Linked DNA regions of Homo sapiens: all the other regions are reported to be linked to region 6. Evidence: microRNA targets listed by miRTarBase, many of them from high-throughput screens and not tested one by one. Region 6 holds a microRNA gene; each other region holds the end of a gene's coding sequence.

The links. Region 6 holds the annotated microRNA hsa-miR-557 (GUUUGCACGGGUGGGCCUUGUCU, at 3,034-3,056, opposite strand). A microRNA usually pairs through its seed, bases 2 to 8, with sites in the 3' UTR of a target mRNA and lowers its output. Matches are read on the target gene's strand: a 7mer-m8 pairs with bases 2 to 8, a 7mer-A1 pairs with bases 2 to 7 and ends in A, and an 8mer does both.
Region 1: miRTarBase lists GM2A as a target of hsa-miR-557. The part of its 3' UTR that is shown has no 7-base or 8-base seed match.
Region 2: the mRNA of RBM47 is a reported target of hsa-miR-557. Seed matches in the 3' UTR shown: 7mer-A1 at 1,691-1,697, 7mer-A1 at 1,910-1,916 and 7mer-A1 at 2,658-2,664.
Region 3: the mRNA of REEP1 is a reported target of hsa-miR-557. Seed matches in the 3' UTR shown: 7mer-A1 at 3,067-3,073, 7mer-A1 at 1,826-1,832 and 7mer-A1 at 1,597-1,603.
Region 4: the mRNA of LIMS1 is a reported target of hsa-miR-557. Seed matches in the 3' UTR shown: 8mer at 2,550-2,557.
Region 5: the mRNA of PTCD2 is a reported target of hsa-miR-557. Seed matches in the 3' UTR shown: 7mer-A1 at 3,275-3,281 and 7mer-A1 at 1,990-1,996.
Region 7: miRTarBase lists TADA3 as a target of hsa-miR-557. Seed matches in the 3' UTR shown: 7mer-m8 at 3,203-3,209.

Annotation. Positions count from the first base shown.
Region 1 is chr5:151,266,686-151,271,053 of GRCh38, forward strand. GM2A (ganglioside GM2 activator) reads left to right here. Exons shown (of 4, transcript NM_000405.5): 3 at 46-228; 4 at 611-3,755. The coding sequence ends at 766. Among named protein-coding and RNA genes, the nearest start is that of GM2A, 16 kb to the left of the region's middle.
Region 2 is chr4:40,422,044-40,426,411 of GRCh38, reverse strand. It overlaps RBM47 (RNA binding motif protein 47), which reads left to right. Exons shown (of 7, transcript NM_001098634.2): 7 at 269-3,132. The coding sequence ends at 508. RBM47-AS1 (RBM47 antisense RNA 1) reads right to left here and starts at 279. Exons shown (of 2, transcript NR_199039.1): 1 at 230-279. RefSeq lists an enhancer at 1-990.
Region 3 is chr2:86,213,447-86,217,814 of GRCh38, forward strand. REEP1 (receptor accessory protein 1) reads right to left here. Exons shown (of 9, transcript NM_001371279.1): 9 at 547-3,664. The coding sequence ends at 3,593. MRPL35 (mitochondrial ribosomal protein L35) reads left to right here. Exons shown (of 4, transcript NM_016622.4): 4 at 1-344. Among named protein-coding and RNA genes, the nearest start is that of MRPL35, 16 kb to the left of the region's middle.
Region 4 is chr2:108,682,877-108,687,238 of GRCh38, reverse strand. LIMS1 (LIM zinc finger domain containing 1) reads right to left here. Exons shown (of 10, transcript NM_001193483.3): 10 at 1-3,354. The coding sequence ends at 3,240. Among named protein-coding and RNA genes, the nearest start is that of LIMS1-AS1, 6.5 kb to the right of the region's middle.
Region 5 is chr5:72,357,835-72,362,202 of GRCh38, reverse strand. PTCD2 (pentatricopeptide repeat domain 2) reads right to left here. Exons shown (of 10, transcript NM_024754.5): 10 at 1-4,000. The coding sequence ends at 3,776. Among named protein-coding and RNA genes, the nearest start is that of PTCD2, 40 kb to the right of the region's middle.
Region 6 is chr1:168,374,272-168,378,639 of GRCh38, reverse strand. It overlaps MIR557 (microRNA 557), which reads right to left and starts at 3,116; the gene lies at 3,019-3,116.
Region 7 is chr3:9,776,803-9,781,170 of GRCh38, forward strand. TADA3 (transcriptional adaptor 3) reads right to left here. Exons shown (of 9, transcript NM_006354.5): 9 at 3,165-3,747. The coding sequence ends at 3,555. It also overlaps a transcript of OGG1 not described here. Among named protein-coding and RNA genes, the nearest start is that of CAMK1, 9.0 kb to the left of the region's middle. RefSeq lists an enhancer at 1,343-1,637.

The DNA.
Region 1 (4,368 bases), not on the chromosome of region 6:
CACTTATAACCTTTTTCAAACCTTTGTTTTATTTTTTTTTACCAGGTGGATTTAGTTTTGGAGAAGGAGGTGGCTGGCCTCTGGATCAAGATCCCATGCACAGACTACATTGGCAGCTGTACCTTTGAACACTTCTGTGATGTGCTTGACATGTTAATTCCTACTGGGGAGCCCTGCCCAGAGCCCCTGCGTACCTATGGGCTTCCTTGCCACTGTCCCTTCAAAGAAGTAAGTACTTAGGGAGGAGAGAGCGTTACCCCTGTGGCTAAAGAGATGGGGTTTGGAGAGAAGGGTCTTTGCATTCTCCTTCTGCAGATCTGCATGTCTCTGGATTTGTAAGCCAGTGTGACCTATCAGGAATCACTTATCTTCCGGGAGCCTCAGTTATCCATCTACGAAATGGGAGACTTGAACTTAGATGTGATCTTCAGGGCCCTTTATCCATAATAATCCATGCTCTACAGTGCTATGGCCGTCTCTCATCTTGTGCGGCTGTTTTGAGAATGGGAAGAGGGGTGGTAGTTCATGGCTGCAATCCTAGCAGTGGCTCTAGGAGAAAGACCCCATCAGTAGGCTCCCACTGACTGGCGGTCCACTGGCTTTCCCGCAGGGAACCTACTCACTGCCCAAGAGCGAATTCGTTGTGCCTGACCTGGAGCTGCCCAGTTGGCTCACCACCGGGAACTACCGCATAGAGAGCGTCCTGAGCAGCAGTGGGAAGCGTCTGGGCTGCATCAAGATCGCTGCCTCTCTAAAGGGCATATAACATGGCATCTGCCACAGCAGAATGGAGCGGTGTGAGGAAGGTCCCTTTTCCTCTGTTTTGTGTTTGCCAAGGCCAAACTCCCACTCTCTGCCCCCCTTTAATCCCCTTTCTACAGTGAGTCCACTACCCTCACTGAAAATCATTTTGTACCACTTACATTTTAGGCTGGGGCAAGCAGCCCTGACCTAAGGGAGAATGAGTTGGACAGTTCTTGATAGCCCAGGGCATCTGCTGGGCTGACCACGTTACTCATCCCCGTTAACATTCTCTCTAAAGAGCCTCGTTCATTTCCAAAGCAGTTAAGGAATGGGAACCAGAGTGTTTTAGGACCTGAAGAATCTTTATGACTCTCTCTCTTTCACTCTTTTTTTTTTTTGTCACTAAGTTAAAAGCGAAGTGAGAGTATTAACGTTTTTGTTCTCCTCCGGCCCCCTGTTACAATGAAGGGGCAAAAGTATTTGCTCTTAGTCTATTCCTCCCTTAACTTCTGTGACTAATTTTTATTTCCTTTCTAGATTTGCCCAATTAATACTAGGGTGCAGTGTATCCTGGAGAGGTAGGGTGTGTGGGGGAGGAATCCCTTGGGGGAGATATTAGGAGTGCTCTGTTGTTTACAAACTCAGGTACCCGCAGGGCCTAGCAAGAGACTTAAATGACTGATAAGAACCGTGAGAAACATGTTGCTTCCAGGCTTGATTTCGATTTTTCGCTTTTTTTTTTTTTGAGACAGAATCTCACTTTGTCACCAGGCTGGAGTGCAGTGGTGCAATCTCACCTCACTGCAACCTCCGCCTCCTGGGTTCAAGCAATTCTCCTGCCTCAGCCTCCCAAGTAGCTTGGACTACAGGCCCTGCCACCACGCCCGGCTAATTTGTGTATTTTTAGTAGAGATGGGGTTTCACCATGTTGGCCAGGATGGTCTCGATCTCTTGACCTCGTGATCTGTCCACCTTGGCCTTGCAAAGCGCTGGATTACAGGCATGAGCCACTACACCCAGCCGATTTTTCCTTTTTGATTAAAGATGCTATTACAATGTAAATATTTCTTACACAGAAAGTCACAGCACATGTGCCCATTGATACAAGGCTGCTGAGGCCTGGTCTCCAGTTGGAAATATAATTAAGGGTGGCAAGGACTGGAGTCAGTTGGAGAGTGCATAGCCAGTCTGTGAAGACAACTGCCAGATACTGGCAATACTCCAGCCTGGTGACAGAGTGAGACTCTGTCTCAAAAAAAAAGTTTCAATGTTTACTCCTAGAGAAGCCAAAAATCCAGATTTGTATATGAAATCTTACCATTTTAAAAGATTGGCAGCTAATTATTTTTTTAAAAAGCTGTGCAGTGTGATGTGTCCCAAACGGACTGGCTCATGGGTGGCCACGTCACAACCTCTGATCTCAGACCGTGCATGCCTTGTCCTCTTAAGACAACTCCTGTGGCACCGTTTCTCCCTCCACAGGGCCAAAGCCATAGTGTCCGGTCCCAAGGACAAGGCTCTTCCAGTGCTAGGAGAGGTATGAGCAGCCTCTCACCTGTGAGCTGTGGGGATCACAAGGCTGCCTGCCTCAGTCTTGGAGTCCTGTTGGGTGAATGAGGCAGATGGGAAAGAGCCTCACCAGCAGCTGCTTTTGGAGCAGGGGTCCAAGGAAGAGAGGGTGGCCTCGACATCAAACTGCCTGGATTTTTCTACCACCCTGTTACATCATAACAACTTCTGAAACACACACCAGCCCTGAGTTCTGGGCTCATTTGAAGCCTGGAATAGCAATAAATCTTTTTAACTTGCGGACAGTTTCCCCTTGCCTTGGCTGCATATTTCACTGATCACATCTCAGGATTTCAAAAGCATTTTTGGGGTGGGGCTCTTTTGGTTGGAAGGGTTTGTTGGAACGGTACAGGTGAGCCGAGGTGATTCCAGGGACGGACCCTTCTGCAGGAGCTTGAGCTTGCTTGTTGTCTCTGCTTCATCGCCATCCAGCTCCCTTGTTTGCTATTTTGCTTTCCATCACATCATGACTGCGGAGAGCAAAAATCACCTAGTGACCATTGAACAGGTCCCAGAGACAAAATCTTTTTATCTGAGGAATTTAAAAGGGAGCAAAGACCACCTGGTGACTATCAGGCCATGCAGAGGCAAAACGCCTTATTTGGGGAAAATTAAAAGTAATTAGACTTTCCTATTATCTAAAGCAGGCATCTGGTTCCAGATTTCTTTTCCCCGAAAAAAACCTTAGAAGTAACTAAAATTTCTGTACATCTCCGGAATGCCATGCTGAAACTCACTGCAACCCCACGGTCCCGCTTTAAGGTCCATAAATATCCCTAAGGAAAAATCCACCGTGGTACATTCAGTCCTCTCACCGAGGTGCCCCATGGCAGTCTTCTGCAGCATTCTTCTAATACCTTTCCTTTTTCAAACCTATACTGTTGTTGGTGAATTCTTTTTACCAACCCACGAGTTGACCACTTCCCAATGCCGGGGATCTGACACCTCACCTGGCAATGACCTCCACAGCCGTTTCCCTCTGTTGGATCTTCCAGCCTTATTCTCAACAGTTCATTTTTAGTTCACATTCTTGACCGAATCTCAGTAGCTCAGTTAATCTTTTTATGTCTGCTCTGCTCTTGGGTCATATGTTCCGTGAGGTTTCTTAGGGGTGGGGGATGAGGAGTTAAAGGTGGCATCTTCAATCGCAGGTCAAAGCAGACTTTAATAAATGGTGCTGAGCCAACTGGAAAGCCCCTTGGAGAAAGTTGAAGTTAGACCTGTACTTCACACCATATGCAAGAATGAACTCCATCTGGATCCAGGATCCAAATGTAAGAAAATGAAGCCATATAAATACAGAAGGAAACGTGGTGGAAATATCCAGTGGCAACAAAATATTGACACATTTGACTACATGAAGATAATAAAAATGCTTAGTAAAAACACAATAAAATCAAATGACTGGGAGAAAAATTTATCCAGCCTATATAATAGACAAACAGTTAGTGTTCTTACTATATAAGGAATTAAAAATTAAGGGACAAAGGACCAAAAACTTGATAGAAAAACTGGGAAAAGACATGAACATACTCACGTAAAGATATAAAAATGGCTCTTTAAAATGAAATATTCAAACTAACTCATTAGAGAAATGTAAATTGAGATAATACTGAGATACCATTTATCATCTCTAAGACTGGTGAAAGAAAGAACAACACATTTCTGTTAGGCAAGGCTATAGGGAAACACACTGTCATCACTGTTGGTAGGAATGCAAACTGGTATGACTTCTGGAGGGGAATTTGTCAGTACTTAACAAATTGCAGAAGCATTTACCCTTTGACACAACCATTTCCACTGTGGGAATTTCCCTTGAAGATGCACCTCCAACAGTACAAACATACAGATGCACAAGATTACTCATTGCAGCACTGAGACTGCAAATATTGGAAGCAAAGTCATGTTCATATACACGAGAAAGCCTGAGTAAACCATGGCACCAATGGCATACCCACATGATGGAATATTATTGAGCTATAAAAAAAATGAGGAAGATCTCTATGAATCGGTATAGTTATTTTCAAGATATATTAAATGCAAAAAGCAAAGTAC
Region 2 (4,368 bases), not on the chromosome of region 6:
CAACTGTATTTCACCTTTCCCTCAGCCTTCCAGGCCTCTCACTTTCACAAGGTGGCATCACTGAGTTTGAGGATGCAGCTCCACCTTACCTCTTCAGTGGCTCTTCTCCCACTTGCTTACAATAATTGCTGTTTGCCCGCCCCTCTGCCTTTCTCTCCCTTGCTTTTGTGTCTTTGTATTCCCGTCTTCTGGGAGAGGCTTGTTGAATGAATGGATGATAGGTACATACACGTGTTCAGGAAGGCTCCTTTTTGTCTCTTCTCCTCAGGGCCGCCCAATAACTCCAGTATACACGGTGGCTCCAAACGTTCAGAGAATTCCTACTGCCGGGATCTACGGGGCCAGTTACGTGCCATTTGCTGCTCCAGCTACAGCCACGATCGCCACACTACAGAAGAACGCGGCAGCCGCGGCCGCCATGTATGGAGGATACGCAGGCTACATACCTCAGGCCTTCCCTGCTGCTGCCATTCAGGTCCCCATCCCCGACGTCTACCAGACATACTGAGGCTGGTGACCAGCACGAAGACAGACCACACAAACACCACTGAAGGAACGCTTGACTATTTATGAAGAAGGAACATGTTGGATTCACACATGCAACCTGAAAGTGAAGAATGTTAGCAGATTTATTTCTGAATTATTTTATATACATGAAGTTTTCACTAGTTTTTTAAGACTATTTTCAACTTAGCATGCCTACGTTCATACATTTCCAAAAGACTTGCAATGGTTCGTGCCTTCATTCCATCTTTTAAAAATTTGTATGCTGTACTACATTTGTATAGAGGTTTTTGTTGTTGTTTTTTTAAGGATATATTTTCAGTATGAAGGTTATTTTCTTAACTTCTGCACTCCAGAGATTTCTATTTTGTAGTACCTTCAATAATATATCAACTATATATTAAAAAAGCACACTTGAGGAGCTAGGGAACTATTTTGAAAAATATATACAATATTTAAAGATACAAACAGTAGTGCTTAAAAATACTACATAAAGCATTATTTTAAAGGTTATACTGGAAAGTGCAATTTTAAAATGAGTAAAACCTCTGTATTTCTGCTGGCATTAAGGGTTGATGGTGTTACCATGTATCATCATGGCGGTACTATTTTTTAAAAGAAATTAAACACTGGATCTCTCCTTAAGCCAACATTGAAAAGACTTGCCGCACTTCTGAGTCCAAACACTGGAAAGCTCTCCTTTGCCACCGTTAGCCGGGGCTCATTCTCCATGTGCCTTAGCCTTAAACATGCCCCCACTCCCACATCTCTCACCCTGTCCCCTCCTCCCCAGATTCCCAATCCCACCGCAATGTTTGGCAAGCCTAGGACTGATAAGTAGCTCTGATAGAGGAGCTGGTGGCTTTTATACTTCTTCCTGGGTTTTTGTTGGGGTTTGTTGTTTCGTTGTTTTTTGTTTTTTTTTTTGTTTGGTTGGGGAAGTATTGTCTTCTACGTGTGCTATTTTCAGTAGCAGAGTAAGCACAAGGTTTTAATCGAGTTGCATAAGACACCTTTGCATAGCTATTTAATTGCCCAATGTAAAACTTTAATGCCATTTCTAATGCTTTTATTCATTTTTGAAGTATGAGTTTGTAGGGACAAAGAATGTATGTTATCGTAGACAAGACCCCCAGAGACTCTTTTCAGCAGAAAGTTATGCTTCTAGTTGCCTTACCATGTTTCTTGCAAAACTGTCCATGGTCCTCAAGGGTGTTGGAAACATTATGTTTATTAAATGGGCCTCTCTTCCTTTGCTGTGCACTTGATGGGTGAACTGGATTGGGGTGTGCACATCCAGGAGGAGGAGGAGAGACCTGTAGAAGTTTAAAGATAGTTTGTAAATATCTTCTAATGCTTGTTTTTAGTCCTTTTATGTTGGAGAAGTTCATGGTATGTAGTTTAATGCAAAATGAAACCATTTTATTTCAATGTTATTAAAAAGGTTTGTTTTATTAGGAAGTTAATGTATTGTTGCAGTGTTTTGTGCCTGTTTAAAGGCTTTTGTTTAGCAGAGTGAATGTAAAATACAGTAAAATGTTAAGATTGTCATCTACTTTTTAAAAAAAAATATCAACTTGGAATTGTTTTTTAAAGGCTCAATCAAGGAAGTGAGGTGTGCAATAAGGTAGCAAGTAAAACGCAGTTGCGTTTTTATGTCATGTTAGAGATCCATACAATTTTCCACTCACGGGATTTTTGTTGATGGCTGAATTCTTGTGGATTCATAAGAGGATCATGCCCTTAGCAAGTACTTTTGTTTTGTTTTAAATTAAGAGATTCCCAAATGCCTTTTTCCCCCTCATCTTGAAATGAGATGAGTTTTTATGTGTAAGCAATATTTATTTAACTATTCTATAAAATTATTGAGTGCCTACTGAGGCCTTTAAGCACCGCTAACATTCCTTTCCATCATTCTTTTAAATGACATAAAATAATTGTGCAATGTTCCTGATGATGTACCCCACAAGCTGCATTCAAACTCAAATCTGTGGGAATGAGTGACTCGACAAAATGTAATTCGGATCAGATCCTCATCCCCTGACTGTGTGAAAAAAGTACTCTCCTTCTAGTGAAGGATTGTCACAGAGTTTCACTGGATGAAACTATGACCCAGTATTCTTACTGTATTTTACATATGCCTGTAAATTATTTGCAAAAAAGAAGAAGAAGAGGAAGAAAGAAAAGAAAGAAAAGAAAGAAAGAAAGAAAGAAAGAAAGAAAGAAAGAAAGAAAGAAAGAAAGAAAGAAAGAAAAAGAAAGAAAGAATAAAAAAAAATGATAACATGGCAACCACCAAACTCCCTTAAAAACAAACATTGGTGACATGGCCAATTAAGTATCAGTGAGCCTCCTATCTGGGACTTATCTGTTCCTATTGTTTCAAAACCATTTCATGTACACTACTGAGGTAAGTTTATAACTTGAAATGTGAACTTTTTTTTTTTTTAGTGTTAAGAACAAACTATATAAATGTAAAAAAAAAGTTTTAGAGTTCTGTTTTCAAACATTGCTAGTGGTTTAGTTAACTTTAGCTGCTTTATATTTGAAAAGCTTTTATTTAGATCTTGCTCCATTTACAGTACATTCTTAGGATGTATGTAGTAAATAAAGCTTTCTTTAAAGCAATCGCAAGACCTTATTTTAAATTGTGTTTTCTTTATACTGATTTATTTTTTCTAAAAAAATTAGGAAAACCCTTACAGCATAGAAAGGATTGGCTAATTCGATATTTTCCGTTGGAGAAATCAGCAAGTTAACGGTCATGTGTTTGTCTTGGGACTACCATTGAAGATGGGTTACATCGGCCAGGTGCGGTGGCTCACTCCTCTAATCCCAGCGCTTTGGGAGGCCAAGGCGGACAGATCACCTGAGGTCAGGAGTTCGAGACCATCTGGCCAACATGGTGAAACCTCATCTCTACTAAAAATACAAACAAAATTAGCCAGGCATAGTGGTGGGTGCCTGTAGTCCCAGCTACGTGGGAGGCTGAGGTAGGAGAATTCCTTGAACCCAGGAGGCGGAGGTTACAGTGAGTCGAGATCATGCCTTTGCACTCCAGCCTGGGCAACAACAGCAAAACTCCATCTTAAAAAAAAAAAAGATGGGTTACATAGCTGAATTGTGAATTATGAGTATCCTCAAACTTTGGCTCAAGTGGTAGGAGATTGAACACTCAAATAATACTCAAATCTGGATTGGAATAGGATGTGACAAAGCCTGTCACCACCCTCAGTGCCAAAGTTTATTTATAATCCCAAAGGCTTTACACGCAGAATTTTAAATGGAGAGAGTTGATGTACATTGAGTTTTCTGATGGTCTCATGAAAGTGCTGGGATGACCTTGATGTTGGTCATTGCATTTGAAACCAAAACCTTCTCGTTTCTCCTTTTCACCGTGCATAGCAAGGTTAACAGGACACTTTCCTTTTCTCTAGAGATCATCACTAACTTCAGACAGTATCTATCATCAAAGCCAATCAGATGACAGGAGGGAAGGTGGTGGATTGTCAATAGAATAAAGTTCCACTTGGATTTGCCAGTGATTAAGAATTTTACCTTCTTAGATTTGAACCTGGACTGTGGCCTCCCAACCTGCATTTCTTGGAATTCTAACTTCCTGCTTCCTCTTAAATGGATAAAGGCCTTTTTAGAGGCTGAACAGACTGGGAAACTTCCCAAGATGACAGCTTATTAGGCAGTGTTTTTAGGAGCAACAAGAGCTGCTGATCTTCTTGTTCTAGCAAATAAGTACAAAAGGTCTTCAAGTTGCAGGATCACATTCAGGTTAGACTGATCTCTTTAGAAAAAGAATTAACAATCAAAATGAGGAGGCCAATAGCGTGTCACATGAGGAGAATGACT
Region 3 (4,368 bases), not on the chromosome of region 6:
GAATACAGGACTAAAAATGCAAAGAAATTGGGTCTGTGTTTAATTTTGATGTTTCAAATTTTGAGCTTCCAAGTCTTTGTGGCCACCCAATGAAGTTTGAGTCTGCCTGTTCAGATGTGAAAGGTAAGGGCTGCAGCAGGTTTAAGGGTGGCCCTTCACCACCCTGTTGTCACCTGCACAGGCACTCCCCCATTTGCAGATGAAGAAATGTTCAGAGAAGAAAAATGATGGACCAAACGTCTGTTTGCACAATTGAAACTCTACCAGTGGACTATTCTATTTTCACAGCTACCTAGTTTCTGCCGATGATTTTTTTAAATGTGAAATAAACAGTGATACTTTCAGGTTTGTAGTTGTGTGATGAACTGGTTTTCAAAACATTTATATCATCTGGTTTTCTTTCCCTCTCAACATCCTATGCAACAGGCACGGGGCCAAGTCACCAGGCCAGTCGGTGGCTGAACACTCAGCTTCTAATCCTTGCTACCTCCCATATTTGAAAAAAAGTATTTCCTGTTTCCTTTTAAGCCCAACATTACAAAGATGTTTTTTAAAAGAAAAATGTTAAGACTTTATTCAAGATGTGTATCAGGCATTATAACAAAACAGCAGAACTTCAACCTTTGGAATACTGTAATTTTACATCCCTTTGATGCACAGTCCAGTATACTATTTTATTACAGATCATTCTATAGGGACTACAGACATGAACTAGAGGAAATGTGCACAGTCAAAATCCAGAATATCAGCTCTGGGAGTGTACACTGTTAGAGGATGAAGCACATCCTTTGCCATTTCAAATACTGTGCCAGGTGGAGGACTAGGAAGGCTCAAAGATGGTCATGGTTGACAAGCACTCTTATCACAAACACATGGATAGCTTATCACGGAGAACACATTTCAAAGGCCAGCAAAGTGAGCAAGCTATTCACACAAAGCCAGGAGGGATTATGACTAAACTCTCCAGTTTATAAGCACAAGTCCACATCTCACCTCCTCAGAACAGGTGCTCAATGGCAATTAACTAAAAGTTATGACATGAACATTACAGACTTTCCAGCTAGCATTTTGTAAACAGCCTGTGTCTGTAAGTCAGCAAATTAAAAACATTCAGTTGTATCCTCTAGACAGAACACCACACCACTACATGTACACTTACAGGCTTTCACATTTTATGTCAGTTCATACACAAATGTACAACTTGTCAGATACGTAAACACATTTTGCCAGAAATATGACAGCTGCTTTCAGTTGTACAGTGAGTGTCTTTAAGAGAGAAACCGACTCCCTAGTCAACACTTGAAGGAAAAATAGTTACATTTACATTAAGACAGAGTTTGGATACCTTTATATTTTTCAATCTTGAATGAGAAGTAATAATACAGCATGTCTGAGAATAGAGCGCTTCAAACTTTTTTTGGCATAGTTAAGTGCAAACTTGATAACCTGTACTTGTCACAACTCTCCATTGTAAAATGGCGAAAATATAGGTTGTTCACGATAGGATTTTAAACTGCTGCTAAAGGCAATTTATTGTTTCGGCAAAAAAAAAAAAATTGCTAAGAAGCTGTGTAAGCTTTTTTTTTTTTTTTTTTTTTTTGCATTCGTTTCTGATAATTCTGGGTACTTCCAACTAACAGGTAAATACATTTTAAAGAGTATATTCTTCTTCTGTCTGGAACTACTCAATGAGCACAAAGAAAACATTTTCTGTCTTCCTTAACAGATTTAGGTATTGGTGGGTGTGGGGCACAGAACATGAGCAAACAGCTTCTGTTTATCCTCTCAGCCACAAATTCGCTTTTAGGTATATTTTCCTATACCCTTTTGCAAATTACAAAATCACCTTCAGAGGAACTATGGGTAGATGGGATTCCAATATGCATATCTGGCAACAATCAGCTTCAAATCAAACCCTTTCTGGGGTGGCTAAGATCCAGCTAATGTGTCATCAGCAAAGGCCTCTAATATGTGTTTGCGTAGTAATGGAACAGTTTTTAATTGGGCCTGTTTATAGTTGACTGACAGTAAGTTCTATATGGTATATAACACTAATTCTCTAGTCTTCTGGGCATATCTACGAACAAATACAATCCAAATATTATGAGTAACTGGGTTGTGACCACTGCATGCATTACACTGAAAGAAACACCAACTCGAAGCACAAATATATTATTCTTATATTTCGGCTCAGCTCTCAGTGGGGAGAGCAGCTACCTCGGACCACAATGCCATTTAAACCAGATTCTTTTCAAATAAAATTCTCAATCTAAGTGGAAAGCCCCCTCAGAGAATGCCTTATTCCCCTACTAAGCAATCCAGGCTTGTATAAAACGTCTGATAAGGCCTGTAGTGCCCATTGAGTATGAGTCTGCTGTTTACATTCTGCACAGGCCAGGAGGGGAACAGAAGGTGTGAGCCACAGGTGCTCCTGGGTCTGACCAGCAAGTCTAACCCATGAAGATCTCGAGCTCCAAAACCATTCTAGAGCCCACCATTTTGATTGTTACACATGTGTTTCAGATGTATGTTATGGCATATCTGAAACAGCAGAGTTCTCAGTTTTTTGTGTGTTTGTTTTTGCTAAGCTAAACAAGTTTTGCTAGAGTTCGCTAAAACAAGGTGCTCAGAGTGTAAGCTCCTCTGTCAGGAAATCGGCAGCACTGGTCACGATAAAGGAGAAATCGTCCTTTGTCAAGCACAGAATTACTCCTTCCAGCAGCTCTACATGTTCCCATCCTCAAGAAATTGCACCAAGAGTGAGCTACCTGCCTATCCCTGGAAAAGATTCAGAAGCTCCTAATCCAGAATCCAGGGAGGAGATGAGCTTCCTGTGACTCTTCTCTTTTACTGGGATGTTCCCCTGACCTCTCATCACACTTTACTGTGTTGTGAAATATTGTTTCTCTTAGTTTGTAACTTGTCTGGTCTTTTGACTAAACAACTATCTAAAGAATATAGACCACACTCCTGCAGGGAAAGGGATGTCTTACTGGAGTTGTATTTGGAAGCTTTATAAGCACATCTGAGACGTTCTCTAGAATCAAAATATTTGTCTATATTTGTTTTTGCAGTTTTCTTACATATCAGAACCTCTGGCAGCCCTTGCAAGTCCATTATATTAAAAGCCAAAAGCCATAAATATGTACATCATAGTTCAAAGTATAAGTACCAAGAACAAAGAAAGTTGTAAAAAATGCTGTGTTTGCATTTACAGGACTAAAAACTAAGTATGCAACAGATAAATTACAAATGTACATCTCAGCAGCATAGGGGTGATTCTCTTATCTTTCTAAAAAACACACTGCTGTCTATAATGACAATCCAATTGTGGAAAATTACCAACCTCAGAAGACTTAAAGGTCACCACCCCCGCCCCTACTACCTTTCCCTTTAGCCTCTCCCCAGCAAAATAAAGAAAAGGGGGAAAAAAATAAATCCTTAAAAGTGGAAGGGGAGAGAGAAAAGGCCATGTTTGTGAGGCTGCACACTCAAAGCACACCCAGCTTGCGGATTTCTATGTTATTAGTGAATAGCTCTTTAAGGCAGAGAAGAAACATTCTGTGGATCCGGTGCTGTTGGCTCATCTCACTCACGTGGTTTCGGTGGCCGAGGATGAGGTACTTTTCTTCCTGAAGCGAGATCGAAGGATTCTAGGCGGTGCCTGGTAGAGAAAACAGAAAGGTGTCCCTCAGTTTGGTGTAAATGTGGGATCTTTTGAGGTCAGCACCTGGAAGGCATTGTGTTGAGACTTCCAGCTCCTTTGGCCAAATGCAGCTGGCTAGGGCTGGGGTCTCCCTGAATCTCCGCAACAGGAAGCAATCATCAGAGTCCCATCCCACATATCGCATGAAGCTGAGCCCTTTGAGAGGCTGATGCCTCCCTCTTAAATTATGCTCCTCAATCTCCCAAGGGAACGGTTGTGCAGAATGACACATCTTTCTTGTTTCTGCCTGAGGAGCAAAATTATCTTAAATGATTCAGCAGAAAGAGACACCTCCGCATGCTTCCTTTGCTTTTGTTATTTCCTTTGGGAACCAGCCTAATGTGTTTTGGTACATGCCTCAAATTTCCATCATCAAATTTCCAGTCCCCTTTCTGGATGAGAAACCTCTTAATGTACAGCACACCACACCACAAAGGCAAACACCACCTTGAAGTACAGGTTGAATATCCCTTATCCGGAAATGCCTGGAGTCAGAAGTGTTTGGGATTTCAGATTTTTTTTTTTTTTTTTTCAGATTTTGGGATGTTTGCATATACATTCCAATTGAGCACCCCAATCTGAAAATCTGAGATTCAAAATGCTCCTATGAGCATGACCTTTGTGCGTCTTGTCCACACTCAAAGAATTTCAGATTTTTCGAT
Region 4 (4,362 bases), not on the chromosome of region 6:
AACAATTATAAACATTTATTAAGCACCAAGAATATACTGTGGTGGTTGCTATATGAAAACATAATTACCAATATAGTATCCCTGCCATTGAGCTTACAATCTAAAACGAAATACAAGGCTATGAGCCTATCTAAAAACTTCCTTAACTTAGAAATGGCTACTTTGGCAAATGAGTGAGGCAAAATGACCTATTATTCAGGTGCAGTGCTAATAAGGCTTTGAATATCATCCAAAGAATGTTTTACTTGTACCCATTGTTCCTGATTATGTTACACTTGCTAAGAAAAACAGTACTTAGAATTTTGGCATGAACAATGAATTATTTCAAATTGTCTTGTAGGACTTTAAACAAAGAGATGCTTACTGGCCTAAGTTTTCCAGCAGCCAGGGAAAGCCCTATTAAAAATATTATGAACTAGACCAAGTTTCTCTTTTAATCCACTTACACTTTTTTTTTTTTTTTGAGACGGAGTCTTGCTCTGTCGCCCAGGCTGGAGTGCAGTGGTGCAATCTCGGCTCACTGCAAGCTCCGCCTCCTGGGTTCAAGCCATTCTCCTACCTCAGCCTCCCGAGTAGCTGGGACTACAAGCGCCCGCCACCACGCCTGGCTAATGTTTTTTTTTGTATTTTTAGTAGAGACGGGGTTTCACCTTGTTAGCCAGGATAGTCTGGATCTCCTGACCTCGTGATCCGCCCCCCTCGGCCTCCCAAAGTGCTGGGATTACAGGCATGAGCCACCACGCCCGGCCCACTTACACTTTTTAAACTTCTTCCTCTTCTCCTATACCTAAGGGCTCCAATGATACTACTTATCAGGGAAGAAAGTACTGTATCTAGATAAACTACCCTTAAGTATTACAGGCTTAGCAAGTTGAATTTCTAGAAAATACTCATTCATAATTTATTTATTTATTTTTTTTGAGACAGAGTCTTGCTCTGTTGCCCAGGCTGGAGTGCAGTGGCGTGATCTTGGCTCACTGCAAGCTCTGCCTCCCGGGTTCCCACCATTCTCCTGCCTCAGCCTCCCGAGTAGCTGGGACTGCAGGTGCCCGCCACCACGCCCGGCTAATTTTTTTGTAGTAGAGATGGGGTTTCAGTGGTAGCCAGGATGGTCTTGATCTCCTGACCTCGTGATCCACCTGCCTCGACCTCCCAAAGTGCTGGGATTACAGGTGTGAGGCACCGTGCCTGTCCACTAATTCATATTTTAAAAGAGGACTGAGCAAAGACAGCAATGGAACCTCTGGCTGCAGGAGATGCCTGGGTATGCCTGATATGTAAACAAACACAAGCAGTCGAGTTCAGGCCATGCATCTTCAAAGTGACGAAGAATATATGTAAATGCTTGTTTTTCTCCTCCATATTTCTCGTGTAGAGGTATATGAGAATTTAGCATCAAGACGCTATACTGCAAACCCTGTTCTGTGTTGCCTATATTCATAGCATAATATTTAATAAATACTCCCAAGGTTGTCATTGCTGGTCACATATTAGCTGACAAAGGCACACTGAAGGGACTTTGATTCTTACTGTAAAATGCAAAGATTGTTTTAAACTACTCAACATATACAATCTTAAACTATGTGATGATTATTCTCGATCATTTATGATAATTTCAATTCTAAAAGATTACTAAAAAAAATTGGTTGTAGGGTATCTGAAAACAAAAATAGAATGTACTCCATAAAGTACATGCACAGAATTTTTAAAAATGCAGGCATACAAATATTTAATGGCAGAGTGGTAATAACCTGAGACTTTTTAAAAATGGCAAAACAATATTTCAGCAATTTTTGGAAAAAAAACCCAAATATTTTCCCTAAGAAGTCTCTCTTGGCAACTTTCTTTTTAAGCAACAAAGCAGCAGCAACATTTTTAAATGTTCATAAAGCTCGCTTTCCATTAACAAGTTTATTAAGGAAGAGTGGTCCTGAAACTTCAGGATAAAACTTTTGATAAAAATAGAATCACTAATTTTGACCTAAAACAGACACTAAAACACCCCTCCTTCCAATTTAAGAGTGTCATTTATACCTCCTACTTACAGTAAATAAATCAAATTAATTATAAGATTTCAAATGGAAAATCTGAAACACATATCAACATCATTTTCTTCTAATAAGATAACAGAAATTAACTTCAATGGATTTCCCCAAAAAGAGAATAGTTTCTAAAAACTTAATTACAGCTGTGGTAAATGAATCTGGGTTTACCAATCTCAGATCTCAATGCACTTAGTTTTAGTTGGTATTCTGTGAGATGGCTAGAATTCCTGATTTAAGTATGTAGTATGTATGTTTTTAAGGCAAGGCAAGTTTGAGTATGTATAAAGCATAGATATTAGCATGGTTATAAAGGCAATATGACCGACATACACATTCAGTTTTCTGAAGCAATATATTCCAAGCTACATACAATTTAATTTCATGTCCTATTCTAAGACTACATGCTTAACATTAAGCTTAGAAACATAATTGCTGTAATACATTAAAAATACTTCATTTTCCAATATTGTAAAGTATATTTCCAAATACCTGGTATAAATTTTTTTTTGCACAAAAATTTAAAGGACATCCTACAGCTAGCTATTACTACTGCGTTAAGTAATCATTTGAAGGAAGAATTCACAAGGAGAGCAGGTTATAAAACTAAGCATAATAATTATTGCATTTAACTAAAAAAAATCAAGTAGTTCTGAATTACACTTGTTTTTTGTCTTAGTAATGTGCATATTCACTTTCTAGCTACTAGTTTGATAAATATACTAAGATTGTATAAGATTTGTTTTTCTTGTTTTTGTTTTTCTTGGGTGGTTATTTTTCTTTTCTGTGTCCTTCCCCAACAGCAGTTGGAATTTTCTTTTGAACACAAAGTAAATTAATGTTTATACTGTTTTTTCACCTGAGTCATGTAAAAGGTGACTCCTTTCATTTTAAAAAGTTATATTTAATTTTTGGGGGCCTTAATTAAAATTTAACATTTAACCATGTGTTTTTTTTTTGTAAACAGTCTACATGTCAACAAATGGATAAGGGTTAACAAAGGCAAATACTGACTTCATTTGTGTTTTAAACACGATTATATGAATTTTTCTTTTTTAATTAAAAAAATGACATAAAACCATTCATATAGGTCCTCTTCTCTCAACTGCTTTGAGATATAGCTTTAAATATGGGTAGATCAAGACAAGTAATGTTGGTAATCTCTTATCTTGCATAGAAAAGAAAAAATAAAGGAACTTATTTCCTTCCTAAGGTCTCAGCTAGTTTCTTAAGTCTTTTCTTCAGCTCCAATGGAAATTTCTCATAGCACTTCTTACAGACTGGCTTCATGTCAAACTCCACAAACTTATTCCTAAAGACAAAAAATTATAAAAAAAAAGAAGTTAGTGGAAACATATTCAACAAAGATATATAAATGATGTGCAGTAATTGTACTGAACTAAACGAAGGCAACTAGGTGATGATATTATATTCATGTTAGTAAAAAAACCATAATCCTAACCTCAATTCTTATTGTGATATATATATAAAAATTCAGTATAATTTTAAAAAAAAGTCCTTATAAATTGGTTCTATACATCCATCTGTGTAACACAGACTGTAGATTACATTTTATTCAGTACTAAGTAAACAGGAAATCTAATGTAAATATAATTAACTTAAGTACAGTCAATCACTTTTTTTTTTTTTTTTTTTTGGAAACAGAGCCTCGACTGTCACTCAGGCTGGAGTGCAGTGGTGATCACAGCTCCCTGCAGCCTCTAACTCCTGGACTCAAGCCATCCTCCCACCTCAGCCTCCTGAATAGCTGGGACACAAGTGCATACTACTATGCCTGGCTAACTTAAAAATTTTTTTTTGTAGAGACAGGGTCCTGTCGTATTGCCTAGGATGGTAATCACATTTTAGAATACCTTAAAGATAAATTTATCTAAAGGAAAGAATCATATTTTTATAATGTGAATGATTTCTTTATTGGAGGCAACATGATCTTACTTAGTACTTTAAATTAGGTAGCCATGAGGTTTAATTAATTTTAAATTATAAGGGGTTATTTTGGTTATCTGACAGAAAGGTTGGAAGAAAGTTTTTAATCACTCTTAACATAAATGTAACCAGATCACCTGTGGTTGCATTGTAAGCGGTAGCTATTTGAAGAACTCAACTATTCTTTTGAAAAGCTAGAGCAACACACATTATCAATTTATTTTTAAAATGGTCCTGGAGAAGACAACTTTTCAGATAGCCTCCTGATCATCTGTAATGCATTTCCAACAGGTAATTACAGGAGCTTATTACTGTTGAAATCCAGAGTGTTTAATTTTGAATTGAGTAAATATACAACTTGGTAACTTGTTCA
Region 5 (4,368 bases), not on the chromosome of region 6:
TTTGGAGTTCAACATATGAGTTTGGGGGGACATTCAGACCCTGCACTGAGTGTATGGTATTAGAGACGAAAAGCTGTCCATGGGGGACCAATATGACCACCAACATTGTTATACAATATAGTTAAATGAGCTGGTGAGTTAAATAAGTACTAATCCTCTGATACATCCCCTACCATGCTAGGCACCCAGCAAACAGAGCAGAAAGGACAGACATGGCACCTGAGTCTAGTGAAGAAAACAGACAGTGACAGGCATATGATAAGCACTTTGATAAATGAGGTACATGGGGCACATGGGGAGTTCACCTAACCAGGTGAGACTAGACCAGAAAGCCTTCTCAGATGAAAAGATGTCTAAGCCAAGACCTGAATGATGAGTAGGAATTAGCCATTCCACAAGAGGGGAAGAGGGGCGTAGAGTAGCAAGAGTTGGAGCTGGATGGACAAATGTGGGCCAGATTAGGAAGGACCTTCTAAACCATGTTGAAGAGCCTGAGCTTTATCCAGAAGCATGTGAGGTCCTCAGGAGGTTTTAAACAGGGGAGAAAACAGACTATCTACTACAGTTTCACAGAATTTATTCTTTGAAATTCCTACCACTGAGATGGGATATATGCTCCCTCCATTTGAATCTGGGGGGGCTTGGGACTTTAGTGGAAGTGATGTTATGAGACTTCTGAGACTAGGTCATAAAATGTAACTGCTTCTGCCTGGTCCTCTTGGGACAGTCACTCCTAGTACCTAGCCACCATGCTGTGGGGAAGCTATGTGTAGACATGTTCCAGCCCCAGCACTAGCTGAGGTCCTAGCATCAACTGCCAGAAATACTAAGGAAGCCTTTGAGATTATGCCAGTCGCGGCCACAATCTGATGATGACTATAACTGCATGAGAACCCGAATAAGAACTGTCTGGCTGAGCCCAGTCAGTACTTAGGATAATGAGAAATAACACAATGACTGGTGTTGTTTAAAGTCACTGAGTTTTGGAGTGTTTTCCACACAGCAATCAATAACCAGAACTATCCCTGATATCACCTAATTAAGAAGATATCTTTTTGTCTCCTTCTAGTAACTGTGCTGAACTCATCATACTGATTTCTGGGACTCTGGAGCAACAGATATCTACAGTAAGTAAAAACAATCTACAAAAGCACATAACAGAGTTAAGGAATAAGATGTTCTGTCCAATCAAATATTTTCATTAACAGGATAAGTAGGCCAGGTGCGGTGGCTCATGCCTGTAATCCCAGCACTTTGGGAGGCCAAGGCAGGCAGATCACTTGAGGATAAGAGTTAGAGACCAGCCTGGCCAACATGGTGAAACCCCATCTCTACTAAAAAAATACAAAAAATAAGCCAGTGTGGTGGCACACAACTGTATTCCCAGCTACTTGGGAGGCTGGGGCATGAGAATTGCTTGAACCCAGGAGGCAGAAGTTGCAGTGAGCTGAGATCACACCACTGCACTCCAGCCTGGGCGACAGAGTGAAATTGTGTCTCAAAAAAAAAAAAACCCCAAAGCAGAAAAAAACAAGTAAATGATGTAGGCAAACTACTGCTTATAAAGAAACATCATTTTTTCAAAGGAATTACTGAGTTTTAAAGAATGAAATGCCTATCATAACCTATACTGAACACTGTTTTATTGGACTTTTAAGACTTTAAAATCATCTATTACTTTGGGGTGAACATTATGCATATAGCTACCTCTGTACTGAGGTTTCTGGGAACAGGTGGAATGGACCAGTTTTTCCAGTCGGCTGGGCAGCAGGGATTGGGAAGCTTGTTGCTATTTACTGCTCACAAAATTTGGTTATTTCGCTAATGAATGGTTGTTAGCTAACAACCAAGGCCACACTCACCCACAGCACTGGAGCCATTTGAACTGTGAGAGTTGGAGAAGATGAAAAGTAAGCTGGGGGGACAGGAAGCATGCCCTATTATTCCCTAAGACTGAAAGTGGAGAAATCCAAGCACTTTTTTTTTTTTTTTTGCATGTGCAAAACACCAGACACATACAGAAACAATTAGGATTCTATGAGGGCAGAGAATTTGTTTCTCTAAATGGGGCTGTTCAATGTTTCACAGAGCACAAGGACAAGAAATTCAATATTTTTGAGCAGAAGGAAGAACTCATTTGTTTTTATAATTCCTTAACTAGTTTCAAACATATTGCATGTACTATGTGCCAGCCACTATCTGCTTGCTTTATATTCCCTATCTCATTTCATCCTCACACCAAGCCTAAGAGGTCGGTACCATTATCCCCATTTACCAAATGAGGAAACTGAGGATGCCCAGGGCCACACAGTAATGGGGGCCCTTAGTATTCTGTTTCTTAAGAGCTGCTCCTTTTTCCCCTCTGAAAAGAGATAATGTGGTACAGTGGGAAGGATACTAGACTAGGAATCTGGATTCTAATCTCAGCTCTACCACAAATCAATTATACCAATGTGCGACTCTCATATGCGGATCCTGTCCTCAGGTGGGATTGTGATCTCAGACCTGGATTCAGCAAACACCTGAAGCTGTGACTCTCTTACTGGGACACAGTCTACAGTTGAGATTGGGCCTCTCTTGCATGGATCGTTTCCTTAACCTGAAAGATGAAGGAATTAATTAGGAGACTCAGAAGACTTCTCCTAGTCTACAATTTCTGACTCTATAATCCTTGCCTTAGAACAACAACCAAGTGAACAGTCTTAGTTTTGGAGGTGGCAATGAAGAGTCTGCAGCAATCTTGGCAGACAGCTCCTGAGGTCTGAGCAACCCTCTGGGCTTTCTGAAACAAAAGGAGCAAGTGAGGTGGGGTCACTGTGTATCTTCTGCTCACTGGTGACCAGACACGGTAAAATTCAACACATACTATATTTGAGACCATAAGTATGAAGCAGCTTTGAACTGCTCTCATGGCACATTTTTTTTTAATATGAGGCATTCAAGAGAGAAAAATCATTAACAAATAAGATAAACTATAGGACTAAATATTTATTATCCACATAGAAACCAAAGCATTATGTGGTTTTTAGTGGCACTTATTTTGAAAAGCACATGGCTTACCCATGAACAAAGCAGTAGTCATTTAAATTTGGCTTACTCAGCAGTCCTAAAGGCTAAATTCTGGTTTTGTTTGTGCTGCTGAGAAAACAAAACAACCACAATCCCAGCAAGTTTCCTTATGAACCTTATTTCTCTTATTTTTGAGAAAATATGATCCTACTAAACCTTGAATGAAGATTTCAAATCTATATGCAAAGACACATAGGCATTATTGTTTTGCAGATGGAAAAATAAGGGCTCAAGTCATAGACATATATGATGGCAGAGCAATGAGAAAATCCTGGGCTGTTTTCTAACATGGTAAAATAGGGTTTCATACCTCCTGAATTCAGCAAGGATGTAATTTGCAAGTAACTACTCCTTTGAAAATCAGAGTTATCCACACTTGTAGTGAAATTCATTCCTGATGGTGCTTACTGGGTTCCACTCTGGTGTCGGAAGCTGAACCGGAGACTGACCAGGTTCCTTCAAGGATCCTCAGCCATGCAAAAGGGAAGCGCCTTTCTGAGGGAGCCAAGCTTGCATCTAGACCTTCACAGTGGTGCAACATAACTTCTCAGAGATCGGCATGGTACCATTCAGTGAATTTGGGAATTTCAGGAGAAGACCAAGTGTCAGCACACTGTCTGCTGAAGTGCGATACCTGGCTTCTTAGGAAAGGTAATAACTCACTAGAAGCAGGCCCCTCAGATCCATAGGTGGACTGAAACCAGGGTTACTCAGCCAACAGGGACTGGCTGAGTGGCTGGAAGGTGCGACGGCTGACCATCCTCTTGTTTAATAGCAACGTGTGAGATTTCCTGTCCCTGGGGGTGTGGCAGAGCACAGCATCCAAAGAATCAGTGGTGACCTGGCCAGTGATGTGCAGTGTCCCATAGATCTCATCAAATTTGGCCACAAGGGCAGGCACATCCTTCACTTTTTCCCTCACTTTGGCCAGCTGGAAAAAAGCAAGAACACATCATTACATCTCTGCAAGATTTCTTCCTTATTCTTACTATAACCCTAAGAAAAAGAAATGGACATGAACAAAAATGTATGGTAGGCCAGGCGAGGTGGCCCATGCTTTAATCTAAGCAATTTTGGACGCTGAGACAGGAGGACTGCTTGAGCACAGGATTTCTAGGCCAGCCTAGGCAACACAGTGAGACTTTGTCTGTAAAAAAATTTTTTTAAAAATTAGTTGGTGTAGTGGGAGGATCACTTAAGCCCAGGAGACAGAGGCTGCAGTGAGCTGTGATCGTGCCACTGTACTCCAGCCTTGGCGACAGAGTGAGTCTTAAAAAAAAAAAAAAGTATGGTATACAC
Region 6 (4,368 bases):
TGCCACCACACCCAGCTAATTTTTGTAATTTTAGTACAGACGGGGTTTCACCATGTTGGCCAAAATGGTCTGGATCTCCTGACCTCGTGATTCACCTGCCTTCTTCAAAAAAAGCTTGTGTAGCTCAGTTCTCTCTCCCTTGGGGAAGACAAGTAGGTTCCCCAAACCAGAGCTTTCCAACAAGCATGCTGCAGATAGATCACTGGTGTGCCAGGAGATATCCTTCCCCTGAAGTCTCCAGGGTTGCTGGGCTGGCACTGAAGGTCAAAAGCTGCAGAGCCAGACCCCCTGTGCAGACAGCAGCCCCTCAGTTTACCTCAATGTGGCATACCATGGCGATCATTCTCTATGTAGACCATGAACAGGAGGAGGTTGAGAAGCATGTCCTCATGCTGAAAGATCCCCAGCAGGCCCTTCTCTCATTCTTCATGTCTAGACCCTAGGACAAGCTGTGCTTAGGTTCAAGATGCCCTCCCTACCAAGAATTTGTGAGTGCAGCATCATCTGAGTCTGTATCCTCATTTCTACACATGCACTGGAACTCACCCCTTCTTTTGTTTCCTTCACACTTCTCTCAATCTTGCCCTCAATTGTTTTCTCAATAGCTTGACCTCTTCATTTGGACTTGACCCCATGCCCCAGCCACATTGTCCCCATTCTGCTGCCCCGTCCTCATCGTTGCATCTTCGCAGTAATGTATTCTCTTACCAATGTTTGAATGGAATTCCTTAAAATTGAGTGCAAAGAGAAAAGAGACTTTGCATTTGGGGGTAAATTTTTAGCAGAACCCACACACTTTGCTACTATTAAAAGCCATACTATAAAATCAAATACTGCTCAATTAATATCTTTAAGCAAATGTACGCATTAACTAATCAACATCCATGAGAAAGAGAGCTGAGAGGGAAATTATGCATAAGGGCAATTCTTCTGGTCAGGTAGCTCTGATAGTCAATGAAAAGGAGGGTAGAAAACATTTCTGTGTGAGGATAAACAGCGGATACCTCACCTGCCAGGAAGCACTTGAAATTCACTCACTCTTTTAACTTTTTTTTTTTTTTTATGATAGGGTATTGCTATGTTGCCCAGGCTGGTCTTGAACTCCTGGGCTCAAGCGATCTTCCCACTTTGGCCTCCGAAATGCTGGGATTACAGGCATGAGCCACGGCGCCCAGTCCACTCTTTTAACTTTCAAGGCTGACAGCTCCTTAAATGCAACTAGGTGGTGATTTCTCTACAGAACTGTGTTACTTCCCTAACTAAAACCTTCCTTAGTTTGTTCCACTCATTCCTCACTAAACTGTGGGAAATAAGAATCAAACTTATCTCTCCCAATCATCTTCCAAATGGAAAGAGAATGACACTCCCTCTTTCAAAAAAGAAGGGGTTGCTTCCTGCTATACATGATTTGCTGTACGTAGATTGATCAATATTGAAAAAAGAGGTTTACATGCACAAGGAAAGAAGTTGAAGGGGAATATTTCCCTGGAGGGTTCATTGGAGGTATTTTTGCATGTGTACAAGTGGATTCAATATTACTGCAACATGATATTTTCAATTTATTTATAAGAGATATTTAAAAGCAACAGGCATTGTACTCTCTGGGGACAGAAGTCCCCCAAGGCCAATTCCTGCCTTCACCTTAGCCTCACGGACAGAGTTCCCATCCTGACCCTCTGTGACACTTTACAACTTAGTGAGATTAAAAAAGAAGGACAGACAGAATTGTGGAGGTTAGCAGTAATGGAAATTAGAAGCATTTTGCAGCCACCCTTTTATTAAACCTTCTTCCCTGGCTCTTCTCTCCCAGCGATCATAGTACTCGTGTGCAGGATTAGAAAGTTCTCTGGCACAGAAGCACCTTTCTGATATTTCAGTCTTCACCATTCATTCCGTTGACATAATTAAGGCTTTTTTTCTAGACTCTCTCTGAAAATGCAAATATCCCAGAGACAGAAAAGTTGAAGACATGCTAAGGAATCAAGGTTTCAATGAGATAGAAAATTATACTGGTCATAATATTTCCATGGTAATTTACAGTTGATTAAGCACTTTCACAGGTATAGCCTTATTTGATACTTACTAACAAACATATGACTTAGAAAAGCAGGACATATTTTTGGTATTATCATTTCCATTTTACATAAAAGACTCCTGATAACCAGAAATATTGACCCAACACTCCTATCCTATGCAAGTTAAAGAGCTGATTACAGACTCAACACGAGATTTCTGCCTATCCAAGAATGGAGCTGGCCACAGTCAGAGTCATTCTCACTCTTCCCTCTCCCTTGCCTCTCCTGCTCCCCACACTGATCAGTCCCCAAGTCTGTGGCCCCAGAATCCCAGCTGTGCCTGGGTCCCAAGTCCGGAGACCCTCACCAATTTTCTGCCTCATTTTCCCGAAGTCAGGCAATTGCCTAAAGGACCCTGGGTCCTGTCCTTCCTTCCCTACCCTGCACCAGCAACCCCACTCTATACAATTCAACAATAACAAATTTTTATTGAGTACCTACTGTGCGCCAGGCTCTAGGCATTAGGATACAACATTGTAGGATGAGATCCAAAGGTCCTTCCTCCCAATCAGGACTCTCTTGCTTGGTTACCTGCCAGAGTTCTATGGATCTTTATTTCAGTGGTGAAGGTAATGATAATGCCTAAGAGTTGCTGGAGAAATTACAATGCATGAGTGACTATTCTCAGCATTTGACTTATGGTAACTCATCCAATCCTTATAACAGCCCTATGAGGTATTATTCATATTTAACAAATGAGAAAACTGAGACAGAAGGAGGTTGCCTAGTAAGACTGCACACCTAGTAAGAGGCAGAGCAGAGGTAGACAGAGGAACCTGGCTCGCAGTCTACACCCTTATCTCTTAGGCTAAGCTGTAAACTGGTGGAAGCAGTGGAAAGAGAAACAACCTTTAAACCAGTATGTATTAATATAATACTTCTCTGTGCTCAGGCTAGGAAGATAGAAATGAATCTAAGTGCCTCATAGAAGGAGCTTCCTTTCTCCACCTCCTTTCAAAGACAAGGCCCACCCGTGCAAACACTTCTCCAGCAGCAGGGAGGGCCCCAGGCCTCCAAATTTACTGTTCATTTGCCCATTCTGTCTGCACACCCTTGATCTGGCCCTGCCTTTCTGATCACCACTAATGCTGGGCCCTGGCTCCCAAGAATCTCCCAAAGCCCCCTTGGTCCGATAACACTTTGGCTGTGTGCCTCCAACTCAACCCAACACTCTGAGACCCATTTCTGATCATCAGCTCTCAGCCTTCACACTCTCTGACTTATGTAATAGGTCAGCCCATCCCAAATTAACCTGCACCTTCCCCCACCTGGAAGTGGGTTAAAATACTAGCTCAGACTTACTACCTATCAGCACAATATGCATGCTTGACTCATATTTGTTCCTTTGATTCACTTTCATTCATTTATCCCTTCAACAAATAATGTGCACCTACTATGGGCTAGGCATGTATAACATACTTTACATGCATTGTACCTTTAAATTCTCCCAAGGACACCATTAGGTTTCTATACTTCCATTTTATACATGATAAAGCTGAGTTCTCAGCACTTTTATCAAAGAAGAATTTGCTATCCACGAGCAACTTGAGGTGGGCCTACCTTTCACCTTCCCGCCCCAGGCCTTCAACAGGCACTCGGCAGACAGTTGTTAAATTGCGCTGGATTAACAAGCCAGCTGGGCACTGTGTGCAGCCTACCTCCTGATGACCCCCAGTGGAGATCTTGCTGTTCAGGGCCCTCTCTTGTTCATATTCACTTAGTAAAAATTGGCCTGGATGTCTCCTGCATTATCAGCAACCACCAGGCACAGTACCCAAGCTTTGCAAACTAGGAATGTTTAAAAATTTAGCTCTTGCCACATCTCTAGCAGAACAGAACCAAAAGCAATCATCTGACGTTAGGAGGTGCCACACACAAGCAATGAGGACCTCTGCCAGCCCAGCTTCCTCCTGGGGAGGTGAGCTTTCTGCCTGGGCACATGGAAAAATAACATGTATGATATGTGCTCTTTTCTTTGCCCTGGAGGCCTTGACAGCCGTCAGCTCTGTTCTGACAGGTCCTAACCATAATGAACCAGTAATGCTTCTTCAGGTCCTTGCTAAGCATTAGATCCCTAGGTGATGCTATGTACCAGGGGAGATCACCCAGAGACTCTGATCCCAAGGCAGCAGCCTTATTGGGGGATTTTAGCCCAGGATTTTCTCCAAACACAGGGGCACTAAAAGTCAGGCCTGACCTGACTGGAGGGTTTAGAATTCAGAGCCAATTGACCAAACACCTCCAAAGAGAAAAGCAAATGGTTTTCTAAAGACAGTGGTTCTTGCTGTTTCCT
Region 7 (4,368 bases), not on the chromosome of region 6:
AATGAGGGAACAAAAGTATAATGAAGAAGTGGAGGTGTGTGGATGGAGTGAATAAGTGAATAGGGTAATTAGGTAGGTGAAGAGAAGAAATGGGGAGTTTATTGATACCTAAACGAGTGAGTTACAGTCCACTGGACTTGGTTCTTTCCATTGAGTCCTGAGCCCCAGGCCAAGAAATAAATTTACTCCCCGACCACATTTCCACAAAGCTCCTGCCATCACTTTCTTTTCAGCAGGAGCCAACTGGGACCCAGAGCACTTGGTGCCCAGAGTACTCAGGAGCAGACAGGGGCTGGGGACCCACTGTGGGTCAGAGCTCACCCTCCCCGTTCTCACTCACCCTGGTGTTGCTGAAAGTCAGCTGTAAGGCATTTGGAACTCTGGGGAGACCATGATGTGCAAGACAGATGCTTTCTAGGGCCAAGACACAAAAGGCTTTGCCTCCAAACTAGTGATAAGGAATCAGAATTGTTTTGAATTAAATTTGGAGACTTGAGGTACTGGAACTAATCCGCCCTCCTCATGACAACCCAGCTTCCTCCACACTCATAAAGGAGGCATCTTTTGGCTCCAGCAGACACTGATATGATTGTAAGAACTCTGCCAGGGATGGTGCTACCTGGGGGCAGCAACTATTCCTGCATCAAGGCTGCATGGCCTCAGCAAGGCACAGCATCTCTTTGAGTCTCTGTGTCATCTGCAGGCTGGAATATTACTCTCCTTGGAGGTGCATGGTAAGCATCAGATAGGAGGGGTGGGTAAAGGGCCTGGCACAGTGCCAGGCAGATAGTAGGTATGCAACAGAGAACAGCTAGAGTGCTCATGACTGATCCTTGAAAGTTAAGTTTCTTCTCTGGTGAACCAGGCCCAGTCGGTCTTCTAGGGTTCTTCTTTCTATTTATATCTGTCTTCCTTCTTTCACAATTCCATCCAATTTTGGGATGTCAGCTCTCATCCCACCTCCTCCACAAAACTGTCTCTGTTCTTGGAACTCTCTACCAACAACGCCCACCATACTTATGGTGTGGCCCAGTGAACATGGAAGTGAGTGGTTAAGAGGAGGGGGGTCTTCAAGCAGAGCTGCCATATATGGCTGCACAGGTTGGGCACTGCCCAAGTATAGGGAGTACCATTCACATACACTGTAATGGGAGTGGGGCCCCAGTGAGTTGTAATGAAGAGGCTCTCTCTGTAAGCCAAATGGCCTGAGTTTGAATGTTGGCTCAACCACTCAATTGCTTGACAAAGCAAGGTATGTAACCTCCTAAGCCTCAGTTTCCTCATCTGTAAATGGGATGTTATTATGGGGTAGCTGATACCTACCCCATAATATTAGGTAGTTGAATGAGTTCAGAACAATGCCTGGTGCATACTAACATTTACTGAGCCCTTCATTGCATTATCATTATGATTAGAGTTGGTTTCTCATCATTGCATGTGTGGGTGTCTTTTCTCTCTGAGAAGGCTGTGAGCAACCTGGGGACAATGAGTCACTGAGAAATTGCAGCAGCTTGGCCCAGCACCTAGTGGGAGGCAGGGCCTCATGCTGTCCTCTCTCTCAGGATCCTACTTCATCTTTCTTTTTGCCAAAATTCACTTGTAATAGGCCTTTTTTAGTTACAAATCACAAAACTCTAAAGCAAACTAGTTTAAGCCAAAAGAAGCCTTTGTGGGCTGATATATGTGGGAAGTCTAAGGGAGGATCCGGTGGCTTCAAGAATAGCTGGATGCAGCACTTCTCCATCTCCTGGCTCTGCTTTTCTGAGCTGGCTTTATTCTCAAGCAGGTTTTTCCCCATGGGAGGAGAGCAGGTCACTGGGGTAGACTGAGTTTATAGTCTATGGCTTATGGTCCAACAAGAAGTGGAACTCTCCTCTCAGCATCCACAGAGCAATCTTATGGAGGGCCTCGAGTGACCCAGCTTGGGTTACATGCCTGCTTCTGGGACTAATCATTGTGGCTAGAGGGATTGGCACTTGACTGGCCAAGCTGGGGTCATGTGTGCACCCTAGTTTGGCAGTTGGACAAGAACCATGTGTGATGGGGAAGGAACATTTCTCCAACAGAGAGGTGCTGGGTATACGAGAATGTTGGCCATGTTCGCCCTCCTTCTTTATGGCTCAGTTCATAGGTCACTTCCTTAGGGAATCTTACCCTCCCTTCTCTCCTGCGTGGACCTCAACCTTCCCACAGTAAATTGCAAATTATTCCCTGATTCTCTCAGACCAGTCTGGGAACAACTTGAGGCAGGTACCAGAGCATATTTATTCATCTGTGTCCCTTAGGCCAAGCTTCCTGCCCCAGCTGTGGAAGAGACGTTGTCGGTGGTCTATCTAGCACTCACTTCCCTGTTTCCTACTCAGATCTTGTTGGGTTTTACTCTCTCTCCACCACCTTGATGGAGTAGCAAACTCCACTCTGACTGGCATAAAGCCATTACAGTCTCCTTTGCCACAGTGACTGAGGAATGGGCATGTGAGACTGAGTTTGGGCCACTGAAACATGATGGTATCTGGGAAAAGGCTTCTTGCTTCTGTAGATGGGCCATGGAAGCCCGCTGGCTCCGGCTCCCTCCTGTGCTGGATGTAAATGAGGAAGCATCTGGCCCCAACTGCTCCACTGCCACACTACAGCCAGAGAAGGACTCACCTTAGGCAGAGGTCGACACTGTGGAGGGCAGTGTGGTGACCCCTAAGAAACCTGGACCCTTGGGGGAGGGGGGAGGGAAAGCATTAGGAGATATACCTAATGTAAATGACGAGTTAATGGGTGCAGCACACCAACATGGCACATGTATACATATGTAACAAACCTGCACGTTGTACACATGTACCCTAGAACTTAAATTAAAAAAAAAAGAAACCTGGACCCTTGATGACCCTGAAGAATTGCTAGATTGGCTAACCGTGAAGGCCACTCTGTCCCAGGACTGCCCATCCTGCAGCCAACACATTTCCTTACTGTGAATCCACTTTGAGCTGGGGGGGCATTGTTACGTGCAGCCACAAGTATCCTCAGAAAGAGGTACTCAGAAAGTTCTCCCTGACTGAATGCCATGGGTTAGTGGCCATGGGCTGAGAGCCACCAAGCATACCCCCCACAAACCTTACCACCCACACTGGTTCCTTCCTCCCCACTGTAACAGACATTCAAAGACTGGATGCTTTTTTTGAAAAACCACAGCAGTCACTTTATTCTTAAGTTTGCACTTTACAAAACCACAAGGGAGAAGTCCTTGAAGGGGAGACAGGGGTAGGGGATTAGGGAGTGGGGGATGGTAAAGAGGGGAAGAGGAAGACCCAGAAACGAAGTCCCCTCCAACCCCATCTCGGGGACCAAGCAGAGACTAGGCCTCAGGCTAGCCCAGCAGGGCTTCCTGTGTCCTGGTTGTACAGAGCTAGGCCAAAAGACCTCAGGGGAAGGGCCACGGCCCTCTAGAGACTGCCGCCATTTGAGGGACAGCCACAGGCCAATGTTTCCTGTGCCCAAAGAAGGAAGTGGGCCTCCCTTCCCCTCCCCTAGGCCAGATAATCAGCCTGAGGCAGGGGTGAGGGCTACCCATCCAGCAGCTTCAGGATGCTCTCACGCTCCTTCAGAGTCTTCCAGGCCTGGTCCTTTTCTTTCTTGGTGGGAGTCCGCTTCTTCTGCCGGGCAGCCATGATCTTGCGAAAGGCGTCCATGACCTCGTTGTCAGCCATGCGCACCCGCTGCCTCAGCTCCTGCCGGCTCACCTCCTCCTTTGCCAGCCTGTGGGGACCAGCCAGCCAGGTGCCAGGGTCAGCCCACCTCCAGAGAACAACCCCTCCCTCTTCAAGACCGAGCCTACCCACCAGCCCAGGCTGGCATGCCTGTGGATTGTGTCATACAGTCGTGACCAAAAAGCAGTTACTGACCTACACTTACATGGCACTATCTTAAGCTCCTGAAAAATATTAACTCATGTTGATCACGGGGGAGGCTGTGCACATGTGGGGACAGGGAGATACGGGAATTCTCTGTACCTTTCTCTCAATTTTGTTGTGAACTTAAAACTGCTCTAGAAGAATAAAGTCTTGGCTGCACATGGGGGTTCACATCTGCAGTCCCAGCACTTTGGGAGCCCAAGGCAGAAGGATCACTTGAGCCCAGGAGTTCGAGACCAGTCTGAGCAACATAGTGAGACTGTCTCTACAAAAAATTTAAAAAATTAGCTGGGTGTGGTAGTGCACACCTGTAGTCCCAACTCCAAGGGAGCTGAGGATTGCTTGAGGCCAGGAGTTCAAGGTTACAGTGAACTATGATCATGCCACTACACTCCAGTCTGGGCAACAGAGCGTGACTGTGTCTTCAAAAAAAAAAAGGTCTTAAAAATATACACAGTAGGCTGGG